Homo sapiens: one gene and its partner. The protein of the gene in region 2 interacts with the protein of the main gene of each other region in a pairwise test. Each region holds a gene or a part of one and is shown on either strand. Other genes may lie near its edges.

What was found.
Region 1: the proteins of TPSG1 (region 2) and HPCAL1 interact in binary tests that used the Homo sapiens proteins (3 or more experiments, as listed by UniProt).

The regions. Positions count from the first base shown.
Region 1 is NC_000002.12:10,305,695-10,312,965, reverse strand, and holds part of HPCAL1 (hippocalcin-like protein 1), read right to left. Parts: intron 1,264-7,271; exon of another isoform or gene 1-1,263. UniProt on the Homo sapiens protein: May be involved in the calcium-dependent regulation of rhodopsin phosphorylation.
Region 2 is NC_000016.10:1,222,073-1,229,323, forward strand, and holds the start of TPSG1 (tryptase gamma preproprotein), read right to left. Parts: upstream 3,181-7,251; coding exon 3,135-3,180; intron 2,557-3,134; coding exon 2,530-2,556; intron 1,523-2,529; coding exon 1,351-1,522; intron 846-1,350; coding exon 580-845; intron 270-579; coding exon 124-269; intron 25-123; coding exon 1-24. Other genes in the region: uncharacterized protein LOC124903621, read left to right, coding at 3,179-3,489, 4,382-5,168; TPSB2 (tryptase beta-2 preproprotein), read right to left, coding at 6,578-6,742, 6,828-6,991, 7,119-7,251.

The DNA of each region.
Region 1 (7,271 bases), on a different chromosome or scaffold from region 2:
CCAAAGGTTGAGAAGCACCATGATGTTGGTGACAGTGATGGTGATGGTGGTGACAGTGATGATGATGACGATGATAGTGATGGTGATGGTGGTGGTGGTGATGATGATGGTGATAATGACAGTGATGACAGTGATGATGAATGGTGATGATGACGGTGATGGTGACGATGGTGACAATGATGATAATGACGATGATGGTGATGATGACAGTGATGGTGAATGGTGATGACAGCAATGATGGTGGTGATGGTGATGATGATGGGGATGGGGATGATAGTGATGATGATGATGATGATGGTGATGGAGAAAGGTGATGATGACAGTGATAATGATGGTGATGGTGATGGCAATGGTGGTGATGGTGATGATGATGACAGTGATGGTGATGATGATGAGGATGGGGATGACAGTGATGATGGTGATGGTGGTGGTGATGATGATGGTGATAATGACAGTGATGATAGTGACGGTGAATGGTGATGATGACAGTAATGATGATGGTGATGGTGATGATGGTGATAATGATGATAGTGATGATGATGGTGATGACGACATTGATGGTGAATGGTGATGATGACAGCAATGACGGTGGTGATGGTGATGATGATGGGGATGAGGATGATATGATGATGATGATGATGATATGATGATGATGATGATGGTGATGGAGAAAGGTGATGATGACAGTGATAATGGTGGTGATGGTGATGGTAATGATAGTGATGATGATGGTGATGACAGTGATGATGGATGTTGATGATGACAGTGATGATGATGGTGATGGTGATGATGGTGGGGATGATAGTGATGATGATGATGGTGATGGAGAATGGTGATGATGGTGAGGATGATAGTGATGATGGTGATGGAGAATGGTGATAATGATGGTGGTGATGGTGGGGATGATAGTGATGACGATGATGATGACAGTGATGATGAATGGTGACGATAACAGTGATGATGGCGATGGTGATGATGGTGGTGGTGATGGTGATGACAGTGATGATGATGGTGATGATGACAGTGATGATGAATGGTGATGAATGGAATGATGATGATGATAGCGACAGCAATGATGATGGTAATGATGATGATGGGGATGGGGATGATAGTGATGATGATGATGATGGTGATGGAGAAAAGTGATGATGTCAGTGATAATGATGGTGAGGTGATGGATATGATAGTGATAATGATAATGGTGATAATGGTTTTGGGGAGCCAGCAACTGGCCCAGCACAAACCACAGGGGGAAGGAGCTACAGGCCACAGTGAGCCCTTTACACTGCTTGGCGATCCCTGGCCCCAAAACCTGGAATTCCTTACCTGTGCTCTACATCTTCTCCCCCCACTCCCATCCACACTGTGAAAATAATTCTCAAATGCATAACCTTTCACCTTACAATGAGCTCTGAGAATAATCAGCCAGGCCGTATTGTTTTTAGATAAGGTAACAGCATATCACCAAGAACATGTGCTCATAAAAGCAGCAATTCTTTATCCCTGGATGTCTTCAGAAAGAAGAGGGGAAAGCACCTCCTAAGAAATAAGAATAAATTGTACCTGCCAGCATTCCAGCATGAAGGCAAGCAGGGCCTTAGCACCTGCCAGAGCCCTGCGTCTACCTTTACTCGCTGGGAAGAAAGACACAGAGAAGCCACGGCAGCCACATCTCATGTCCCACCCCTGGAGGCTAAGCCCCTGCCAGGCATCCAGGCTGCATCACCAGCACGGGCTCCAAACTGCATGACTGAAGAGTTTCTAATAAAGCACACCTCAACCACTGCTGAGGGATTGGGGGGCGGGGGGACAACCAGTTCTGCCACCCATGGCCCTATCTCAGCCCCTGAAGCTGGGGGCTTTTCTGGACCTCCTACATCCCACACTCATTCTGCCAGGAGTGTCTCCAGCCACACACAGTAAATACGGAAAACTGCATGATGTTAAAAATGATTTTTTTTCAACATAGGTGATCGATTTCGAGAGGTTCTCACTTCTCTCCAAAAATTGATTACAGGGCAGCAAATAGAAAAGATGGGAGTGAAAGGGAGGAGTTGGGGCTGTCATCAATTCTGCTTTCTGGAAACGTCTGTTAAATGCACAGAAAGAAGGCAGAGAGCTGAGCATTTTGCTGCTAGAGAAAAAGAGCGCTGCAGTCGATACACACTGCTGTACAGAACCGCAATTCTGCAAGTGTGCCCAGCAGTCCTCCTCCGGCCTGCCAGCACGAACACTCCCAGACCCGATCCATGCTCTGCACACACTCACAGAGGGAGGGGACCACCAGCTCCGGGCCTCGTTATGCCTGAGGAACAACCTGCAGCTCTCTCTGTGCAACCCCCACCACCAAGCTCAGGGTCTCTGTAGGTGCATCAGGGACCCTGACAGATGCTTCTCAGAAGGCATGAGGCTAGGACAATCCAAAATGGCAGCTCCCCAAACTCCAAGCAGTAACCAGCACTGGCTGCCTTCCGGAAGCCTCCACACGCACAGCAGTCACAGACTCCAGCATCAAATCCCTTGCTACGACAGCCTGGATCAAAACATGCCTCATAAGCCCGAATTTGAAAAGGAATTCTGTACTCAGTGGCAGAGGAGGCACTAGATCCAAGAATGCTTAAAGAGTAATGGCAGCCACCACCACTTATTCCACACGTGACCAGCCAGACTCACCTAGGTACTCACATCTGCGTCCCCATCTACGTCTGAGCTGCGCCTAGAACCCCTTTCTGCACATGACCAAACAGACTCAGAGAACATCACCAGCCAGTAAACAGAGCAAAGACTACAGTTCAAACCCAGTCTGCCACATCTGCAGACCTGGGTTTGAATTGTAGTTCCTGTCAATATCTGAGCTCAGCCTAAAACCCCTTTCTGCACCTGAGCAAACAGATTCAGAGACCATCACCAGCCAATAAACAACAGAGCAAAGACTACAATTCAAACCCCAGTGTCCCTGATCTTTCCAAGGTATTTTGCAAATGAGGTTCTAATACTCCGATTCAAGAATGTCTTGGTTCTTTCCACCATGATTTCTTTCATGGTTTCTGTCCACCATGAGAGTTCTCTACAACCATGGGAGAGAACGGTCATTTGTGATCTACCTGGCGTACAATGGGTATACAATTTCTGTGTCTTGGTTTGTGCATCTGTCAAATGGCATCTCATCCTCTGCTCTCTTCCTCAAAGAGTGAAAATGATCCAAGGTGAGAAATGCATCAGAAATGCACCAAGCCACCCAAGGCCACAGCACCACTGCATTCAACGCCCTCCCCCAGCCCCTTCTATTTACCAGGAGACCTCTCTACACACACACATTGCTTGAACCATCTCTACCTGTTCAGTTGTGGACTAGGTAGGTACTGGGGCAACACTGTGTGAACATGTGTCACACAGCACTCATGCCCTAGAAGGAGCTTCCATGGCTTAGGAAGGGATGACAAGACTCGTACAGGAAAATCTGAACACCAGCCCAGGCAAGGCCATAAAAGGGCATATCATTACTACCAAAACAAGGGCGGAAGAGAAAGTGACCTCGTTTAATTCTTGATCCTTCTACTTTCTGCTGATGCCCTTGGGCTACTTATTTGCTCTGGGCCTCCTCAGTTTTTTCATTTAGAAAAATGGCTTGGGCTGAGGCACAGTAGTTCACACTTATAATTCCAGCACTTTGAGAGGCCAAGGCTGGAGGATTATTTGAGCCCGGGAGCTCAAGACCAGTCTGGGCAACATAGCAAGACCTCGTCTCCACAAAAAATTTAAAAATCAGCAGGCATGGTGGTGTGTACCTGTAGTCCTAGCTACTCAGGAGACTATGGCAGGGGGATTGCTTGGGCCCAGGAGTTCAAGGCTGCAGTGAGCTGGGATCACATCACTGCACTCCAGCCTGGGCAACAGAGCAAGACCCTATCTCAAAAAAAAAAAGTTTGTTAAGAAGCAGGGTCTCACAATATTGCCCAGGCTCAAATCCCTGATTTCAAGCAATCCTCCCACCTCAGCACCCCCTAGTAGCTGGAACTACAGACAAGAGCCACTGTGCCTGGCTTAGAAAATAGATTTGTTTTGTTTTGTTTTGTTTGTTTTTGTTTTTGATTTGCCATTTGCCTCACAAGTTCTTGATGAAACAAGTTAAGGTATGTATGTAGCAGGGCTCACATCACCTGACACATCAATACATGCGCTGTATTTTAAATCCCCACACTCTGCTAGATACTCAGGAGTTATACAAAAGAAATGTGAGGAACACAACTTCAGCTGGTCCAGCCAACACACCTTGGGTATTCTGTAGGTGCCAGTGCTGAGCCAGGTGCAGGCAGGAGAGGCAGGTAAGAGAGCTCGCCATCTAGCAGCGGGATGGCCAAGCACCCAGCTCACTTCGTCGGTGCTGGGGGATAAATTGATTCTAACTAGAAGACTCTAGGAAGGCCCAAATGAAACAGCTCTTGGGCCGAACCTATGAAAACACACTAAGAAACATAGAAAGAAAAGGCAAATCTAGAGACAGAAAGCAAATCTGTGGGGGACTGGCGGCTTGAGGACGGGGACAGGGAGTTTGTACAAAAGAGGGATCTTTCTGGGGTGATGGATATGTTCCAAAACTGGATTGTGGTAATGGCTATGAACTCTATTAATTTACTGAAAATCATTAAACTGTACACTTAGAATGGGCATGCTTTATGAGAGATAAATTCTATCTTGGTATTAATTAAAACAAAAATGAGTAGGAGTTTAGCAGATAAGGAAGTCTGGGTGAGACAGAAGAAAGGCATCGAACAATCCAGCCCCAACTCCAACCCCTCCCCTGCACCCCCAACTCTCCCAGGTATCAGCTTAGAGGGTGCTTCTCCAGGGAGCCCCCTATACTGGGGTAGGAGCTCCCCTCCATAGCACTTCACGCTCCCTGGTCTTATTTGATAGGTACCCCACATACAACCCCCAGCCCAAGACCTTAAACTCTGCACAGGTAGGGAGGATGCCTGGGCCCAACCTTCTCAGACTCCAGCTTGGTCCAAGGCACACAGTAGGTATCAGAAGCACTTACTGCGTTAAGAGAACAAACCAAGGTTTGGTGGGGTTGGGGAGGCAGAAGACAGTGGGATGATGAAATCTGCGTTTTAAACTGGGAAGTGCTGCCGGTGTGGCTGGAGTGAAGGAACTGGAAGCATTCTCTGGGCCAAGGGCAGATAAGGCTCCGCTGTGCCGGAAGAGTGGGTGTGAGCCCTCAGAGAGGGCTGACCCAATTAGATGGCAAAGTGAAGACAGACAAAGAGCTCCAAAACTCTCCAGAGATTTCAAGTGAAGACAGAGAAAGAGCTCCAAAACTCTCCAGAGATTTCTAGCTTTAACAAATGAGTAGATGAGACGTGTTGACCATAATAGGTAGGAGACACAGCTTCAGTGAGGGAGATGTGTCCTCGGCTCTGTTTTGATGTGGAACAGCTCGGAGCCCACACCTAGTGTTAGGTCTGCAGCTCAGGGGGACAGCTCAGGTGTATATCTATATCACCTGCCAATGCACAGATGTGGGCATAGGTGAGTTCAGCCAGTGCACCTGGGCAGGTAGAAGGAACTGTCCTCTAGACATGCACTTAATATCATGCCTACCTGAGAGGAGACCTCACTTGCCTAAGGGGACACAGAGCAAGGAAAGATTTAAGCTAGGGCAAGAGAGTACTGAGGCGAAATCTGGGAAGACTTCCAAGAGGAGAACCACGCACCACCCAAAAGCCTTCTTCCTTTTTTCAGGGTCACAGCAACCTTATCCATGCAGTACGTATTTAACAATCCTGAGTTTTCTTAGCCAAGGGTCAGAGACCCATCCCTTGCTGGAGAAGACCTCTTGTCTCATGCCACAGGTGGGGCTAAGACACCTCCACCCCCAGGCTCCTGGCTTCCTGCCAACTTGGGTAGTACCTCAAGCACCAAAAAGATCCAAATACCCAGACAACCCAGCTGCGGGATTAGAAGCATTCAGGGTGCACTTGCTTCTTAAGGTAAAGGCACACAGCCCCAAGAAGTCATCTTTCCTGCCCTGCTGCTGGCAGAGGAGGGTGGCAACAGGAAGAGAGTGGAGGTCTCTGGGAAGGATTTCTTTAGTTCGTCATGCCTCCGATGTGAAGCTTTGCCTCTGAAATTCAATTTTACTTGAAACAACATGGCCAAGGTAGGGCTCTTTAAAGGATTTACTGTGCTTTTCAGATGATTTAAAAATCTTGAGACTTGCGCCCTGCTCATCAGCATCTAAGAAATGTTCCACCTGTCAAACCGTATTGATTACCTGAAGTCATATTACAATCTGCACCACTAGATTCCAACCATTTTTTAGTCTTTGTAGAAAGTGATTTGAAGAAACCTTTTTTCCGTAGGGTAACTGGCACCAAAAGAGCCCCTAAGCCCATGCTGCTGTCTCCATATACAGCCACCCTCTGTCATTCCCAGATTAGAAACTCAATCTAAGGGGAAAAGCACAAGAGCTACCTGACATTCACAGATGTGCAGCTTTACATGAGGACATAAGAACGACACAGAAACCCCCTGCTACCATAGGAGAGCAGGGAGCCCCAAAGTAGAGTGTGATTAAAATCTACAAGTGTCTGCTCATCCTAACTCCAAACATGCCTCCCCCACCCCCCAGCACAGTGACATCAGGTGCTGACAAACTAGCAGAATACACATAATCCCCCATCAATCCTGGCCTGGCAACTCATCAGTTGAACGCATTATCCCACAATGAACAAGCACGGTTTAGGGCTTGCTGGAATGCAAAATTTTAATACAAACCTAACCCCAATCTAGATAAAAATTCAGCTGCCAAGTAGCTTAATCTTCGGTGCCAAATAAACTCCGGGGCCCCCGTTAGTACCCTGGATTATCACTGGTTCATGAGTGAGTGTGGTACTCTACCACTTATGAGTAGCAAAAAGGGTCTTAGAATAAGTGTCACAGGGAGACAACTGCTCTGACGCACACTCAGCAGGGCATGCACTGTACCCGCGCTGCAGACCTTGGAACTGTGCTTGCAGAGCCCTGAAGGTAGGGGGTGTGAGCACCAGCGCTTCAACAGGAGGAAACAGCTCCAGGGTGAAATGGTGCTAGGTGAGTATGGGGCGCCTGGCTGGGGCGTTTGCACCAAGCGAAGTCCAGTCCTTGTCCTTCCATAGACTGCACTTCTAATTCTGCACAGCCCTGTGGCCAGAAAGGGGACGGAGTGTGTCCACGTTCTTGTATTTCACTTAGAATCTATCTCTAGGAGGGCTTGTTGGAAATAAATG
Region 2 (7,251 bases):
GACCAGAGGCCCCCCGGAGTCGTCCTGAGGACAGAGAAGGCGAGCATTGGGAGCCGAGAAGATGGGGAGCCCCTCCCTGGGCTTCAGCCGCCCCCATCCTCTGTCACGGCCTGGCAGGCTCACCTGGCAGGCATCCCCGGGGCCCCGGGCACACAGCATGTCGGGCTGAAGGATGCTGCCCCCGGGGCCGGGATAGTCCCGGCGGCAGGTCTCTGTGTCCACCACGGAGACTTTCACCTCCCGCAGGCTGTACGGGGGTGGCAGAGGCTCTGGGGTGGGGGGAACAGGCTTCAGAGAAGGTTGGGGCACCAGGCCCTGCACTGGGGGGATGGGAGACCTTGCCAGACACAAGTCCCATGCCACCACGACCCTCGTCACGGCACGTGGGTTGTGATCTGACGTTTGGCTGCTGCTTTGGATCCACACGACAGGCTTTGAAAAGGGACAGCCGATAGGGGCGGCCTTGGCTGGGTGTGGAAGCCACCAGGAGCAGGTGGTAGCATCAGCATCCCTCAAGCCAGCTCTCTTCCTGCCGCCCTTGCCTTCCTCCATCCCAGCATCCCCACGGGGGCTCCTCACCTCCCTCCCGCGTATAGCCCCAGCCGGTCACCCAGCACCGGATCCCAGGGCAGAAGTCATCTGAGGCCTCCGGGAGGCAGACGGGCAGGATCCGGCTGGAGAGGGTCACGGGGACACTGAGCTCCACCAGGGCGATGTCCCCGCTGGTCCCCGGCTGTCCTGAGGGGCTGGAGTGCAGGATGATCTGCCTCACGGTGGAGAAGTGGGGAGACAGAGTGATCTCCAGTTCCCCCAGGTGCACCTGGTAGTCGGATGAGTTCAGGGACCTGGGAGGGAAGGTGGCTGGGTGAGAGGGGCCAGCTGCGGAGGCTGGAGGTCAGTGTCGGCCCCGCCCAGACCCTACCCTTGCAGGCATCCGAAGCCCAGCTCTTCCCTCCTAGGCTTGGGACGCAGAAAGCCTGGGCAGTGGCCTCACCCTGCAGGGCCCAAGGACCACGGCAGCACCTTGGGGTTCCTGCCAGCCCCTGGAAAAGCCAGCAGCATGCCCGACACCAGCAGGGGCTGGTCAGGAGGCAGATTGCAAGCTCAGCTCCACGTGAAGAGACCGAGGGGAGGGAAGGAGGGAGGGAGCTGTCCATCCCTAGAGGTGAGCAAAGAGCTGCAGAACCTCACAGAAGGTGGGCAACCAGCTCCTCCCTTTCCATTGGAAGGAAGTAGGCTCAGAGTTCCCAAGCCTCGGAGTGAGTCAAGACCAAGTGGAGGCCTCTGCGCTGGCGCATGCCCCACTGGGGCCTGGACATTGAGACTGCCCCTGCCCACCCGGACACTCACCCGGAGAAGCAGTGGGCAGCTGTGAGCACCCACTGGGGGCTGAGCAGTGACCCGCCGCACACGTGCACCCTCCGCAGGCGGAGGCTGGCCTGCCATGGCCATGCGCCGGCCGGGGCAGCGTGACCCCCCACGATCCGGCCGCCTGCATCCGAAACCTGCGGCCGGCCACACCCTAAGTCGAAGGAGGAAGGGGTGCCTGGTGGGGATCCCAAGAAACCCACTGCACTTCCTCCATGAAGCCTTCCCTGACCACACCTCCCTGCCTTCTTGGGGACTTTGCTCTTCAGCTCTCTCGTCTGCCAGACTCTCCCCAGAAGCATCGTGGGTGCAGCAGAAATGACGTCTCAGGAGCAGTGAGCGCGCCTGGGGCTCAGGTCGTCCTTTCTAAGCACCATGCTCCACAAACTAACCAGGGCTCCCGGAGGCGGTGGAAAGGCTGCAGAGGGCCCCTAGGCGGCTAGAAAGGGGCTCAGAACGGTGGAGCCCCCGAGAAGGCCCGGGGTGCTGGGGGTGGCTGCCTAGTGGGCCCCGGTTTTCCTTCAGGGGTGGTGGAGATATTCGAAGCTGGATAAAATTCGGGGGGCGGGGGGCAGACAGCACTGTCCAAGGTGCTCGGGGCCTCTGAATTGGACGCTTGATAATGTAACTTTATCTTCTGTAAACTTCACCTCAGTAAGTTAAGAAGAAATTAAGAGGAAGTCAGCTGGAGACCCACTGGCCACACCTGGGTCTGCCTGAGCTGGATAATTGTGCTGGTGATGGAGTGTGGCCACTGGGCTGAATGGAAGGGAAGCTGGGATGTAGACAGACAGAGATGTTTATAGATAGGCAGCGGGTGTGGGGTGGGGCACCGGCTCTCCCACACGGCAAAGCCCCCAGCTGGTTCCAGGGCCACGGTGGGGACGCTGTGGGGAGAAAGTTCGAGGAGGGCCAGGTTGTTTCATGGCCTCAGAGCATCTCCCAAGGTACAGACTGACTACAGTGGTGGTGGGGGAGACAGCCCTGCAGCACACCCCGACCAGCCCCACTCAACCGAGAGATGCGAGCAGAAACCACGGCGACAAACTATGACCTCCCCGGGCCCCCATTGGGACCCCAGGGAAGGAGAGGGTCACCGAGGCCCTCCTGCCAGGCCTTGCCTGCACCCTCCCCCACACCCCACACCTGTCAGAGACGTACCTGGCTGCAAAGTCCTGAGGGACACACCTGTGGGAAAGACGAAGGGCCCAGGATGGAGGGGGCTGCCAAGGAGAGGGGTGTGCGGGCTCCAGAGGCCCCTGCCAGGCCTCAGGGCGGCACTGGGGTGGGGCCTGGTCCTGAGCAGAGGGGCCCGGCCTGGTGAGGCTGGGTCAACTGCTGTCTCACTGGCCCAGGGCTGGGTGGGACAAGCCACAGGCCATAAACGGCAGCTGGAGGCCGGGAGCTTGGCCTCAGGCCTGGGCCTCCTCCCCGCCCTCCAGGTCCTGCTCAGGAAAGAAATCACCAGTGTTCTAGGGCCTGGGACTCCTGGCACCCCCAACTCCCACCCGCACCCCCAACTACCACCCGCCCTGCCAACTCCTGCACCCCCAACTCCCACCCGCACATCCCTCCTGCCTCTCCCCAGCACGGACAGCTGGGCCTCCAGCCAGGGGTGCAGTCTCTTCAGAGGAGACACGGGGCCCCACAGGGTGGGGACTCAGCATGTTTCTCCGTCTCAGACCAGCCCCCAGTTTCACCCCCATCAGGGGTCCAGGCAGGAAGCAGATGCCCCCCCATCCCCACACCCAGGCCAGGTCACCCACCGGGCACAGCCAGGAGCAGCAGGAGGCCACAGGCCCCAAGGGCCATGGTGTCTGCCCACTGTAGGGAGAAGGAGGGCCAGCCTGACCCTTGGACCTGCTGGGCGTGGGGGATAGGGGTGGCCACACACCTGCTGTCAGGCAGGGCGGGAGGACGGAGGAGGAGGCCGGAGCTCCACAGACGGCCCCACCTGTTCCTTCTGCACCTCAGAGAAGGGTCGTCACCTCCATTTATCCCTGTGTGGACGCCACAGCCCTGGCACCAAGTGGCCGGCTCCGTCAAGGGAAAGCGGGGAAGGACAGAAGGCAAAAGTACTTCTCACCTTGTCTCTGCTCCGGGGCCAGGGCTGAGGGAGGGGTGAGTGTTCCTCTGAGTGCCGCCCCCTCCAAAAATTACTCCCTGGTTCCCTCGGGGCACGCCACCCCCTCTCCTTCATCCTCTGGGAGCCCAGTCCTGGGGGTTCTTCAGGAGGGTCCCAACTCAAGGCCCAGCAGCCCTTTGGAGACAGCTCAGGCCCTCGTGACAACCACTCTTTGAGAAGTCCCTGTCCCCACGTCCGGCAGCAGGTCCTGTGCTCGTGCGGCAGATCAGATGGGCACCACTTCACGGCCCAGCCTGGGTTGGCCCTTCCTAACCGTCCTGGCTGCCCCAGCCTGATGACTCAGCTGATTAGGGGCCCTGGGCAGCGCCCGGGACTTTCCTGCCGCCCTCCCCAGATCCAAATCACAGGCCAGGCTGGAGGGTCCAGCTGAGACCTTCTAGGTCAGGGATCCCCTCTTTGATGTGGGGAAACTCAGCCACGGGTTGGGGGGAGTTGCCTGACCACCCACCAGGATGTGGCCTCCCAGGCACAGACGTGGCCGCCTGCACGCCAGCACGTGGGGTAGCCAAGGCTCAGAACTGGAGGTTCAGTGTTTTTCCTGGTGACCAATAAGGACAACACCAGCATGCGGGGCCAGCAGTGCACCCACGGCCGGGCACCCTCCTCCCTCACGGCAGCCGCACACCTGGAGGGGGCGCCTCAGGGGAGGCAGGACAGTCCCACCCCACACAAGGGAGCGGGGTCTGAGCCACGAGTCCCCGGCCCAGGGTGCCCCTAACAGGGCGATGTCACCCAGTGGGGAGGGAGCCTGAGGGGCAGGGTCTTCATGGAACCAGGTCCTCTAGTCCTGACCTCTAGGGCTGTCCCCAGGTCCCCACAGGTGGGGACTTCAGGGCCCTCACCTGTCCCAACTCAATTCACCTGCAGCACTGGGGACCCCGTCTTTCTGCCTGTGCCCCAGCACGCCACTCCCCGCAGAGTGCTCCACACGACCCAGATTGCAGGCCTGCTGGGGAGGAAGAAGCTTCAGGCACCATCCCCTGAGCCCCAGCAGTCCTGTGACATGGTGCCGTTCACCCCCACCATTGGACAGGAGAGCCAACTGAGGAACCGGGAGGGGGGCCTGGCCCTGGTGATTGCCCCCAGCTTGGTGGGGTCTCCTGTTGTCCAGGACCCTGGGAGACCTGGGATTGCTTCTGTCTGCGGTGGCCTGGCCACCTGGGTGCCGTCCCCTCGGTGGGAACCCTGTCCCCCCCACTCGCCCTCCGCCTCACACCCCCCTGTGACGGGGAACCAGGGCCTCCTGCCGGCAGCCACGTGGGTGACCTTGGAGCAGGTGCCCCCGTCCCAGTCAAAACGCAGGTGGCTGCAGCCCTGGCCAGCAGCCTGCCTGCCACGTCCTGAGAGACCCTTCCTGCTGAAGCTGACGCTCACATCTGCCAGTGTCACTGGGCTGAGCTTCACTGAGCTTCCCAGGGATCTTAGATCTAATTTGGGAAGCTCTGGGGCTGGAGCCCGCCCTCCCCCTCCACCCAGTGACCGGCCCCTGCTGTCCACCTTTCCTTACACCGGCAGCCCTGTCCTGAGGGGCCGTCTTGCTTCCCTTCGGGGTCTCATCCCTCCGACTCCCACCCCGCAAAACCTCCAGTGGGCGTGTGGAAGTGCTTCTAGGGGCTCAGTGTTCCCTGGGGGTCACCCCGTGCTGTCTCTGTGATCCCTAGAAGGTGGGATGGGCCAGAGGGAGGAAGAAGGGCCCGAGTTCCAGGTCCATCTTCATTAACAAGACGCTGGGCCTGCAGAACAGGAGCCGAGGGATGGGCCTTCAGGGGCTGCAGAGGCAGAGGTCACGTGGGGCTGGAGAGGGCACTGGGAGTTGAGTCCACCCCTTGTGAGGACAGAGGTCATTTGCAGAGATTCGGGAGACTAAATGCACATCTCTGCATCTAACAGTTGGAAGGAAAGAGTGAATGTTTCTTTAGAGAGTTGTTTTCAACCAGAACAGCCCCGCATTTCATTCCTGAGTGTAATCATGTTCAAATATAAAATGCAAACAAGAGCCCGGGATAAAATGCAACACTCGCCAGACGCAGAGGGCTCACCTATTGATGTAGAGAAAGACCTCAAAATGAATTTGAAAATGTCAAACTCAGGCCGGGTGCGGTGGCTCACGCCTGTCATCCCAGCACTTTGGGAGGCCGAGGCGGGCGGATCACTTGAGGTCAGGAGTTCGAGACCAGACTGGCCAACATGGCGAAACCCCATCTCTACTGAAAATACAAAAATTAACTGGGCGTGGTGGCTCACTCCTGTGGCCCAGCTATATGGGAGGCCAAGATGGGAGGATCGCTTGAGCCCAGGAGTTAAGGCTGCAGTGAGCCCTGATCACACCACTGCACTTCAGCCTGGATGACACAGCGAGATCCCGTCTCAAAGCAAACAACTAGGCAAAGCACAAGCAGTGGACGGAGGGGCCGGGAGAAGAGCTCGTGGGAAGCGTGGGGTAGGGGCTCGTGATGGGCAGCCCTGGGGCTCCCGGTGACCATTCTCTGTCTTGACCCGGTTGCAGGGACCTGGCTGTCCTTTATAATCAACTGAGTTGCCCGAGTGGCTCTGTGTGACCCGAATGCTGGATGCATCGTGTGGGGAGAAGCCAGCCTCGGGGACCAGGGCTGCCCAGGAGGCCCCGTCCCACGGTGACTGGCTGTGCCTTGAGGGCTAGGACCTCACACTGTGGCAGGTGTCCTCAGCACACCTGGACCCCTTCTCTCCCAGTGACATCCACAACCAGAAACACAGCGATGCACACCAGTGATTTCCATGCACTTTAATGAGGTCCAGCACTCAGGAGGATTAGCGCCCACCACCAGCTGCCTGGGCAGGGGAGGGCCGGAGGGCCCGGTGCAGGCGTCAGGCTTAGGACAGGGAAGGGGGCTCAGGATGGGGAAGGGTCCTCAGGACAGGGGAAGGGGCTCAGAAGAGAGCAGGGGGCTTAGGACAGGAAGGGGCACTCAGGACGGGGCAGGGAAGGTGTGGGGGGCAGTCGCCACCTGGGTAGGAAGCAGTGGTGTTTTGAACAGGAGGGGCTGGCTCTCCAGTGACCCAGGTGGACACCCCAGGCCTGACTCACGGCTTTTTGGGGACATAGTGGTGGATCCAGTCCAAGTAGTAGGTGACACGGGTGTAGATGCCAGGCCGGTTGGGCTGGGCACAGCCCTCGCCCCAGCTGACCACGCCCGCCTGCAGCCAGGTGCCATTCACCTTGCACACCAGGGGCCCTCCGGAGTCGCCCTGGGAAGGTCAGAGGTCAGCGCTCGCCGAACAGGCCTGGGAGTGGGGGTTGGGGGGCGGGGGGCGGGGGACAGGCGGGGCCCACCTGGCATGAGTCCCTCCGGGTGTTCCCGGCACACAGCATGTCGTCACGGACGATGCGGACGTCGTCTCCCGTGTAGGCGCCAAGGTGGTATTTTGCGTCACAAATGTGGTTTTCCATTATGGGGACCTTCACCTGCTTCAGAGGAAATGGCGGTGGGAGGCGCTCTGCAGGTGGGGAAGAGGGTGCAGCCTCAGGAGGGGGCCGGGCAACCCCCACCTGGAGCCCAGAGGGAGCCCAGGGGCTGGGCTGTGGCTAAGACCCTGGCCCCACCTCCACTGTCCCCAGACCCACCATCATTGTCCACATCGCCCCAGCCAGTGACCCAGCACGGCATCCCCGGGGGGAAGGTCTCTGAGGCAGGGGGCAGGGTGACCGTGTGGACGTGGCTGGAGACGTTCACCGGCTCCTCCAGCTCCAGCAGGGC